Linked DNA regions of Homo sapiens: region 1 is linked to region 2. The links come from fine-mapping of genetic effects on gene expression. A gene starts in region 2. The other region holds a variant in brackets. All regions are shown on one strand. Distances are from middle to middle. Region 1 has its middle 14 kb from the start of DNMT1. Region 2 holds the start of PPAN (peter pan homolog).

What was found. PIP is the estimated chance that this variant, and not a neighbour inherited with it, causes the effect. A credible set is the group of variants that fine-mapping cannot tell apart.
Region 1: its variant is the best candidate, but not a certain one, in a credible set for the expression of PPAN in whole blood (INTERVAL, PIP 0.62).

The regions. Positions count from the first base shown.
Region 1 is chr19:10,206,411-10,211,782 of GRCh38, forward strand. No RefSeq gene overlaps it. Among named protein-coding and RNA genes, the nearest start is that of DNMT1, 14 kb to the left of the region's middle. The variant GT/G (reference allele first, on the strand shown) is at 2,259.
Region 2 is chr19:10,103,461-10,108,832 of GRCh38, forward strand. PPAN (peter pan homolog) reads left to right here and starts at 2,902. Exons shown (of 12, transcript NM_020230.7): 1 at 2,902-2,952; 2 at 3,041-3,211; 3 at 4,045-4,146; 4 at 4,344-4,394; 5 at 4,504-4,674. The coding sequence starts at 2,935. PPAN-P2RY11 (PPAN-P2RY11 readthrough) reads left to right here and starts at 2,902. Exons shown (of 13, transcript NM_001198690.2): 1 at 2,902-2,952; 2 at 3,041-3,211; 3 at 4,045-4,146; 4 at 4,344-4,394; 5 at 4,504-4,674. The coding sequence starts at 2,935. It overlaps SNORD105 (small nucleolar RNA, C/D box 105), which reads left to right and starts at 4,191; the gene lies at 4,191-4,275. It also overlaps a transcript of ANGPTL6 not described here. RefSeq lists enhancers at 2,539-3,182, 2,779-2,828, 4,471-5,114 and a silencer at 3,049-3,098.

The DNA of each region.
Region 1 (5,372 bases), 100 kb after region 2:
GGTCAGTCAGAAGGCTGAAGGTGAGTCATCCCAGACACCGTGCTCAGTGCCAGGCCCATCAGAGGCCCTGGGCAGGAACAGCAGCACTCAGTAACAATGGGGACACTTTACCACCCTTACCCTGGAAGGGCCTCAGAAGCACTCTCTCCAGGCTCGACTTGCCTAAGCTAGGAATCAGATCTGCAGAAACCCAAGTCCCATAGCGTGTGCTGGGTAGAGCCGCCTACTCCTCGTGGGGCCTTTGAGCAGGCAGACAGCTCTCTGTTGGGGATCACAAGAGGCTTGCTGCCAAGCCCTGTGGGTTTTTCCTTCAAAGAGCCCTTGAGTCAGCTGATCTGCCCCTCCTGGGCCCCTGGCCCAGGTCACCCTCACCTTTCTGCTGGATGCCTGCCCAGCCTCATTCCTGGGCTGCTACTTGGCCCCCTCACCATCCATTCACCACGGAAGAAGTTCATCAGAACCCAAATCTGATCATGTTAGCTCCTCCCTACCTCACCGAATCCCCTGAATGGCTTCTCAGGGCTCTTAGGGTAAACCCAACCCTACCTTCTCCGCTGCAGCCCACAAGGCCTCAGTGCCCAGCCCTGTCTTGTCCTTTCAGCTCCTGCTGCCCACCTATTAACCCACTCCACTTGAGCCACATCATGGACAGTTCCAGCCTCTTTCTGCCTAAGACATGTGGTGGCCAGCCTCCAAGAAGGCCCTCAATGTCTCTTGCCTCTTGGTATTCATGCCCTGCCAAGCCTTCTTCCATAGTCAGGGCCAGTTTATGTGGCCAAGAGAAGGTGAGTGACTTCCAAGGCTAGATCATAAAAGGCATTGCAGCACCACCTTGTGTTCCCCAGGAAACCAGCCGCCATATTGTAAGGATGCTCAAACAGCCCTGCAGGGAGGCCCATAGGAAGAGAAACCAATTTATCAGCCAGGTGAGTGAGCCATATTGGAAGTAGCTGCACTCCAGCCCCCATCAGACCTGCAGATGGGTGGAACCACAGATGATATGTGACTGTAACCTCATGAGAGACGCCTAACAGAGCTGCTCCCAAATTCCCAGCCCACAGAAACCACAGGATATAATGCATGGGTGTTGTTCTGAGCCACTGGGGTTTGAGGCTTGTTGTTAATGCAGCCATAGATATGTATTGCAAGGCTTCTGCATGTGCTGTTTCCTTAGCTTGGAAAGTCCTATTCTACACGCCCAGTTCTCCTGCTTGGATAATCTACAATTATTCTCCCTATTGTGGCTCAACCATGACCTCCTTCAAGGAGCCTTTCCTGACCTCCCCTAGCCCTTTCAGGTCTTTGTTCCATGGTCTTTTAGAAGTCAGGCCCTTTCTTTCAGAGCCTTTACCCCAGCTGTTGATCATATATTTTGAGATTTACATCAGCCATACCCCCACCGATGCCCAGTGTGTAGCAAAGCACCCAGGATGTAGTTAGCACCCAATAAAGTGTTATGGAGCCCTACACAGATGAGAGAGGGTACGAAGCCTGTTCTTCCCACATTAAATGCTCAGTTTACAAATATCCATCAAAATTACCAACAGGCTGGGCAGTGGCTCACACCTGTAATCCCAGCAATCTGGGAGGCCGAGGCAGGTGGATTTGCTTGAGTATAGGAATTCAAGGCCAGCCTGAGCAACATGACAAGACTCATCTCTGCAAAAAAAAATACAAAAATTAGGCTGGGTGGATCGCCTGAGGTCAGGAGTTCAAGACCAGCCTGACCAACATGGTGAAACCCCTTCTCTACTAAAAATACAAAATCAGCCAGGCATGGTGGCACATGCCTGTAATCCCAGCTACTTGGGAGGCTGAGGTAAGAGAATCGCTTGAACCTGGGAGGCAGAGGTTGCAGTGAGCTGAGATCACGCCATTGCACTCCAGCCTGGGCAACAAAAGCAAAACTCCCTCTCAAAAAAAAAAATTAGCTGGACATGATGGCAGGCACCTGTAGTCCCAGCTACTCTGGAGGCTGAGGTGGAAGGATCACCTGAGCCCAAAGAGGTTGAGGCTGCAATGAGCCATGATCACACCACTGTGCTCCCACCTGGGTGACAGAGTAAGACCCTGTCTCAAAAAAAAAAAGACAACTCAGACACATCACATATCTAAATACGAAAGCAAAGTCAGGAAAGCTTTTGAAATAAAACACAGAACATCTATGTGACTTGTGGACAAGCAAGTGTTTCTTCGGCAGGACACAAAGCACATTAATAAAAGAAAATATGCTGGACTCTATGAAAATGAGTTTTTGG[GT/G]TTTTTTTTTTTTTTTTGAGACAGGGTCTGTCTCCCAGGTTGGAGTGTAGTGGTGCAATCACAGCTTACTGCAATGTTGGACTCCTGGGCTCAAGTGATCCTCTCACCTCAGCCTCCAGAGTAGCTAGTAGCTGGGGCTATAGGTATGCACCACCACACCTGGCTAATTTTTTTTTTTTTTTGGTCGACACAGGGTCTTACTATGTTGCCCAGGCAGGTCTTGACCTCCTGGCCTCAAGTGACCCTTCCACCTTGGCCTTCCAAAGTGCTGGGATAACAAGTGTGAGCCACCATGCCCAGCTGAAAATGAGTTTTGGTTCATCAAAAGATGCCATTAAAAAGGAAGCCACAGACAGCCGGGCACGGTGGCTCACGCCTGTAATCACAGCACTTTGGGAGGTCGAGGCGGGTGGATCATGATGTCAAGAGCTTGAGACCATCCTGGCCAACATGGTGAAACCCTGCCTCTACTAAAAATACAAAAGTTAGCCAGGCGCAGTAGTGGGCACCAGTAATCCCAGATACTTGGGAGGCTGAGGCAGAATTGCTTAACCCAGGAGGCGGAGGTTGCAGTGAGCCGAGATCGCGCCACTGCACTCCAGCCTGGGTGAGAGAGCAAGACTCCATCTCAAACAAAAAAATAAAAGCCACAGACATACGTCTGACAAAAGACTCATACCTATAATACATATAGAACTCCTTCAACTTAATGACAATCACTTTTTTACCAAGTGGCTAAAAGAGCTAAATAGGCACTTCACAAAAGAGGATGCCCAGATGGCCAAGGCTAACGTGGGAAGCTGCTCAACTTCATTAGTCATCAGGGAAATGCAAACTCAATCTGCAATACAATATCACCCTCACACGCACACACACAAATGAAAAAAAAATTTTTTTCAAGTATTGGCAAAACCAGAACTCTTCTATGCTGCTGGAGGAAGTCTCAAATGGTATAGCCGCTTTGGAAAATGATTTGGCAACATTTGCTAAAGCCAAGTCTACTGCTGCCCAGGACCCACCAATCCCATGCCTGGAATGAGTGTATATATCTACCAATTGACATGAACAAGGAATGTTCATAATAGTTTACTCACAATAGCCAAAAGCTGAAGACTACATGAACAATAATAGAACAGATAAATAGTTACTTATTCACATGGAATATTATACACAAGGGTCATAAACTTTCTTTTTTAGAGGCAGGGTCTTGCTGTGTCACCCAGGCTGGTGTGTAGTGATGTGATCATAGCTCACTGCAGCCTCAACCTCCCAGGCTCAAGCAATCCCCCTGCCTCAGGCTCCCAAGTAGTAGCTGAGACTACAGGCATGCACCACCACACCCAGCTAATTTTTTTCTTTTTTTGTAATCCCAAAGAGTTGAGATTACAGACATGAGCCACTGCGCCCAGCAAAAAATAAAAAAAATCAAAATTTAAGTTAGCTGGGCATGGTGGCACAAGCCTGTGGTCTCAGCTACTCGGGAAGCTGAGGTGGGAGGATCGCTTGAGCCCTGGAGATAAAGGCTGCAGTGAGCTATGATTATGCCACTGTACTCCAGCCTGGGCAACAGAGCAAGACCCTATCTTAGAAAAAACAGACAAACAAAAAAAGTGAATTTCAAAAACCTTATGCTGTATGAAAGAAACCAGTCATAGGAGGGTACATACTGTGTAATTCTGATTATAGAAATTACCAAGGCACTTATCTTCATTTTTCTCACCCACTTCAAACTTAGGCTTCCTTTTTTCCTTCCAGGCCACTTACACCCTGCCTTCCTCCCTCAACTCTTCCCAGCCTCCTTCTGCCTGCCAGGGTCCATGACATGGCCATTGTCCATGAAAGCCACAAGCCCTAGAGAAAAAATGCCAGTTACAGGCCAGAGACTTGCCCACCTCCTGGAGAATGACGTGAAAATACACAGCGTCTGCTCCTGAACTGCAAAGAAAGTTTCCCTGTCTACACTGCGGTGAGCAGGAATAAAAGCTAGGCCTGCCCTGGCCTTAAATTAAGCCAGAGGGATGTCACGTGAGGAGACTCCTTCCTGGAAAAGACCACCAATTAACCACAGCTGATTCTCCAAAAGCAATCTGCAAGTTGGGGATCATTAGTTGGTGCAAAGGTAATTGCGATCTTTGCTATTAAAAGTAATGAGCTGAGTGCAGTGGCTCACGCCTGTAATCTCAGCACTTTGGGAGGCCAAGGCGGGTGGATCACGAGGCAGGTAGATCACTTGAAGCCAGGAGTTTGAGACCAGCCTGGCTACATGATGAAACCCCGTCTCTACTAAAGATACAAAAATTAGCTGGACGTGGTGGTGGGCACCTGTAATCGCAGCTCCTGGGGAGGCTGAGGCAGGAGAATCACTTGAACCTGGGAGGCGGAGGTTGCAGTGAGCCAAGATCGTGCCACTGCACTCCAGCCTGGGAGACAGAGTGAGACTCCATCTCAAAAAAAATAAAGTAACATACTCATTTTATAGATGAGGCCAGCTGACAGTTGTCATGTGCCATCCCCAAAAGCTACTTGGGTTGTTGAGTGTGGGATGTGAGATTCAAATCTGCTTTTCCTAACTTGATAGTATGCACTTTTAACAGTTATGCCACCACAATTGCCGACAACAATGAATCACATCCGACCCACTTCATTTCCCTTTTTTTGGACAGATTTGTCTATTCTTGGATAAGACATTCAAGGAAGGGTGGTGGTATTGCTTTCTTTGAATTTCTTATCCGAGAATAGTTAAATCTGTCCAAAAAAAGGGGGAAGGTGGTGGTATTGGGTGTCTGAATTTTGGGCAAGTATGTCAGCTTTGTAGACAAATGGGAAAAAATGGCTAGATATGAGGATGGAGAGACGGTTTAGAAACCGTTTGTAGGTTTTTTGTTTGTTTGTTTGTTTGTTTGTTTTTAGAGAGGCAGTCTCACTCTACTGCCCAGGCTGGAGTGCAGTGGTGCCATCATAGCTCACTGCATCCTCCAACTCCTGGGTTCAAGTGATCCTCCTGCTTTGCCCTCCTGAATAGCTGGGACTATAGGTTCCTGCTACCATGCCCAACTAATTTTTAAGATTTTTTGTAGAGCTGGGGGTGTCTCACTGTGTTGCCCAGGCTAGTC
Region 2 (5,372 bases):
GCGCCAGTAATCCCAGCTACGCGGGAGGCTGAGGCAGGAGAATTGCTTGAAGCCAGGAGGTGGAGGTTGCAGTAAGCCGAGATCGAGCAACCGCATGCACTCCAGCCTGGGCGACAAGACTGAAATTCCATCTCAAAAATAAATAAATAAATAAATAAATAAATAATAAATAAATAATAATAAAGTGAGGAATTAATTAATTAAAATAAAAAATAAATATAAAAGACACAGCTGTAAATTTTTAAATTGTGATAGAAACAATATATTCTTAAAGTGAAAACCCTACCTCAGTTACATGTGATTTATGTTTTTTGGATTAATCTGGATTTTATAATTAGAAATAAAAATGTAAGGCTGGGCGCGGTGGCTCACGCCTGTAATCCCAGCACTTTGGGAGGCCAAGGTGGGCAGATCACGAGGTCAGCAATTCGAGACCAGCCTGGCCAAGATGGTGAAACCCCGTCTCTACTAAAAATACAAAAATTTGCCGGGTGTGGTGGCCCATGCCTGTAATCCCAGCTACTCAGGAGGCTGAGGCAGGAGAATCGCTTGAACCCGGGGGGCGGAGGTTGCAGTGAGCCACTGCACTCCAGCCTGGGCGACAGAGTAAGACTCTGTCTCAAAAAAAAAAAAAAAAAAAAGAAAAGAAATAAAAATGTAAGATTTTGAGTCCACATAATTATTTGTTGAAAATAATACAAGTCAGTATAATAGAGAAGCATTCATATATTCAACACTGTGAGACAAAACACCAGAGACCTTGGATTTGATAATTGATCTGATATCCTGGACAGTATTCATATGTACAGTGATAGCTATCTTTCTTTGGTGTTTTTTTTGTTTTGTTTGTGTGTGTGGTGTGTGTGTGTGTGTGTGTGTGTGTGTGTAGTTTTATGGTTCTGAGTTGGTGGCCAGTAAGTTCCATGTAGTGTTGGCACTTATTTAATTAACTATTCATGATTTTGTTAATAGCTTGTTATAGAATTCAGGCATATATTTTTCAGCATAAGAAGCCAAGCACACCAGCTTGTCATTGGAGAGAATATATTAAGTGAGAAAAACATTCAGGAATCAGAGCTTTAACATGTTAAAGTTAGTGCTAAACATTGTCATATTGGATCTGAACCTATCCTAATATATAACCATAAAGCTTGACTTCTGCATTGGAACTATGCTTTCATAAATAAAGGATATCTCATTGATTAAAAAAAATTTTTAAAAAGACACAGCTGGAAACATAACAGTTTCAGGCAACAACTGTATGTTCCAAATATGGTCACACACACATCACAACTTAAAGGGAAATGGGGTGGGCTGAGTGGGTCTTTATCTGTGTGTCAGGCTTGTCCACATCCTGGTTCTTGTGATCACACAGTAGTGCACAGATACAAAACAGGTACACACAGTTGACACCCGGAAACCTATCCACCGCACCACAGAGGTCACCGTCTGTCTCCCACACACTCGGTCACATTTTCACACAAGTCAAATCACACGAGGACGGAACTGGGGGAAGTAACCATGCAGTCATTTCCCAGGGGTACAAAGAAACTCACATAGAGCCCCACAGAGCCCAGGCCCAGGGTCTGAGACCTGTCCAAAGGCCCCACCGACGACCAGCCACACGCCGGGAGAGTCACCTCCTTCCCCTGGTCTGCACCATCCTGAGCTCCCGAGTAACTCGAGTGGACTCCAGGGTTGAAAAAGGAAATGGTCGTCCCAGATCTGAGAGAGGCTGCCAGGCTGGGCTCTGGGCCTGGGTTGGGGCCCCCACACTGGGCCCCTCGGCCCCCCACCCTCAGCCCCCTCTGGCTTCCCCATTGGCAGTAGAGAGGGAGGGAACTTCATAAGTCACAGAGAGGGGCTGAAGAATACAGAGAGTCAGACAGATGGAGATGGGAGAGGCATAGGGAGATGGGAGAGACATAGGGAGATGGCAGAGAAAGGGAGAGACGGGGAGATGGGGAGAGACAGAGAGAGATGGGAAGATGGGGAGAGACCACAGGGAGGCAGATGAGAAGAAAGAAACAGGGATGGGGCCAGACACAGAGAAAGGAAACTTCTTTAGTTTCCATCTTCAGTTATAAATGATGAAAGAGACAACTGATGACAGAGACAAAGTTACAAGAGGGAGAAAGAGACAGGGGGAAGACGAGGGGGAGGGGAGACACATCTGGGGGAGAGGAGGAAGAATTGGGGTGCCAGAGAGAGCAAGGAGGGAGAGGAGGCCGATGGGGGAGGAGAGAGTAATGTTCAGCCCAGTGAGGGGGTGTCCCTTTCCCCCACTGCAAGGTTTTGGGGAAGAAGCCAGAGGCCTGAGGCCAAGACTGAGGCTTTGAGCGGAAAGAAGGAGGGGGCGAGTTATTCACGAAACGCCCGCCTTGCCCTGAGTTTCCAGAAGGTGATGTGGAGTTTCCATCCCTCAGCCTGTCTGCAGACAGGGGTACCCGGGGAGGACAGCTGGCCCAGAGGAGTTGCGAGACTAAAGTGAATGATTGCCACAGTCATTCCCTCCGGTGGCTTCTCCCCAAGTACTTGGCGCCAGAGCGCCCAACATTGTGCATACATGGTCGCTCCTAATTCGTGGGCCCGGGGGACATTATCAGCCTTACTTTGGGATATTTTAGGAGCCTCGGAATGCAGAAAGTGGTTTTAGCCCAGCTGGAGGAAATGGGCCGAAGCGGGATTCGAACCGGCGGATTCGTTTCTCTGCAGCCCGGAGCCGCGTAGCCCCGCCCCGGTCTCCCTAGAAACAGGCACCCGTGTCTCCATAGCAACCGCTCCATCTGATTGCCCCTCCCCGCTCCCAGAGGCCACCTAGTGCGCAGGCCCGCCTGATGTCGTCCCACGCCGTGCCGGCTCTCAGGCGCCGGAAGTGAGCTGCGCAGCGCCGGAAGCGGCGGACGCAGGAGGCCTCGTGGAGGACACAGCAGCATGGGACAGTCAGGGAGGGTAAGGCCCGGCAGCTTGGGAGGCAGGTGGCGCAGGTGGGGTCCCGGCCGAGGTCGCGGCGCTGACCCTTTGTCTCTCGTCGCCGCAGTCCCGGCACCAGAAGCGCGCCCGCGCCCAGGCGCAGCTCCGCAACCTCGAGGCCTATGCCGCGAACCCGCACTCGTTCGTGTTCACGCGAGGCTGCACGGGTCGCAACATCCGGCAGCTCAGCCTGGACGTGCGGCGGGTCATGGAGCCGCTCACTGCCAGCCGTCTGCAGGTTTGTACCCCACCCCCAGCCCGCCTCCACCCACCCTCGGCCTAGTCTTCGTAGCTGCAGTAATGGCTCCCGCTGTAAAACTGTGGGAGGACTTAAGTCTCCCCAGCTGGAAAAAAAGACCCTCATGGGGAGCATCATTTCTGCCTTTCAGGGCTTTTGCTGGGCTGGAGTGAGGGCGCGCAGCTTGGGAGATAGATAGTCGCCTAAGCCTGACAGTTAAGACTGGAATCTGGAGCCGGGCGTGGTGGCTCATGCCTGTATTCCCAGCATTTGGGGATGCTGATGCGGGAGGATCACTTGAGCCCAGGAATTCGAGACCAGCCTGAGCAGCATGGTGAAACCCCGTCTTTACAAAAAATAGAAAAATTAGTCGGATATGGTGTTGCGTGCCTGTAGTCCCGGCTACTCGGGAGGCTGAGGTGGGAGGATTCCTTGAGCCCAGGAAATTAAGGCTGTAGTGAATCGGGATCGTGCCACTTCACTCCAGTCTGGGCGACCGGAGGAGACCGTGTTAGAAAAAAAAAGACTAGAATCTGGAGGCAGCAAAGCAGGGTTGGAAACTGACTTCTCCCCAGTATCTGATGCAAGTTACTTAACCTCTCTGGGCCTGAGTTCGCTCATTTGTCAATGGGAAGATGCGCTGTGAGCAAGAGACAGAGTTAGAACTCAAATCTGCGTCCGACTGACTCTAAAGGCTAAGATCCTTTTGCTCCTCTGGGCTTGTTGAAAGGGTCAGATGCAAGACAGACCATAACAGGATCTGCACCGTCAGCTTATAGTTGTCACAACAAGGGATAAGCTATGTTTTCTTTTTTTCTTTTTGTCATTTCCAGGTTCGTAAGAAGAACTCGCTGAAGGACTGCGTGGCAGTGGCTGGGCCCCTCGGGGTCACACACTTTCTGATCCTGAGCAAAACAGAGACCAATGTCTACTTTGTGAGTAGACGCCCTCACCCTTCATCTCCCCCAGACCCCCCCTTCCCCTATCTCTCATGATGAACACATATGCCTCTGAGCTGCTGTGATTTCTGGCTTCAAAGTAAACGCTCTGAAGAAGAGATGGGGCAAAGGTGCCTACTCCGGGCACCTCTGCTAGACCCCTCCAGAGTCACTGATCTTTTCTTCTCCTGCAGAAGCTGATGCGCCTCCCAGGAGGCCCCACCTTGACCTTCCAGGTCAAGAAGGTGAGAGGGGTGGAGGTGGTACAAAGCCATGTGGGGTGGGAGCTGGACTTGGGGTTGTCCGCAGCCATGTGTGGTTGGTGGTCACCCCCTCCTCTCTCCTGTCCTACAGTACTCGCTGGTGCGTGATGTGGTCTCCTCACTGCGCCGGCACCGCATGCACGAGCAGCAGTTTGCCCACCCACCCCTCCTGGTACTCAACAGCTTTGGCCCCCATGGTATGCATGTGAAGCTCATGGCCACCATGTTCCAGAACCTGTTCCCCTCCATCAACGTGCACAAGGTGGGTCTGGCCTGGCGAGGTGGCAGGTATGGGGGGGTGCAGCGGATAGAGGTGCCACAGGCCCTCAGATGGATTGCTCACTCCTCCCAGCGCTGAGACTGGGAGCTCCTGGGTCTGCTGAGTCCTGAGGTCAAATCCCACTCCTGTGTCTGATGATGCTGGGCAAAAGTGTCCAGAGATTCCCCCAGCGGTCCACACCCCGTGAGCTGCACCTTTTCCAGCCGGTGGAAAGAAATACTGATGGAGCTCTGTTTCCCACGTGTGTTGAGTGCTGGGCTGAGCAGGATCGTAGCATCTCTTCTTAGGGCCCTGTTTTACAGAGGGAAGCTGCGGGCCCAGTGCTATGGCTTCGGCCTGTAATCCCAGTACTTTGGGAGGGCGAGGTGGGAGGATCGCTTGAAGCCAAGACTTTGAGATCAGCCTGTGCAACATAGCGAGACCCCATGTCTACAAAAAGTAGATTTTTAAAAAGCCCGGTGTGGCGGTGCATGCCTGTAGTACCAGCTACTGGGGAGGCTGAGGTGGGAGGATCACCTGAGCCCAGGAGGTCAAGGCTGCAGTGAGTTGTGTTCACGCCACTCTACTCCATCCTGGGTGACAAAGCGAGACACTGTCTCAAAAAAAAAAAAAAAAGCAAATCTGAGGCTGGCAGAGATGCTAAGTTTAGATTCCAGGGGGCAGGACTGGATTTTTAATTT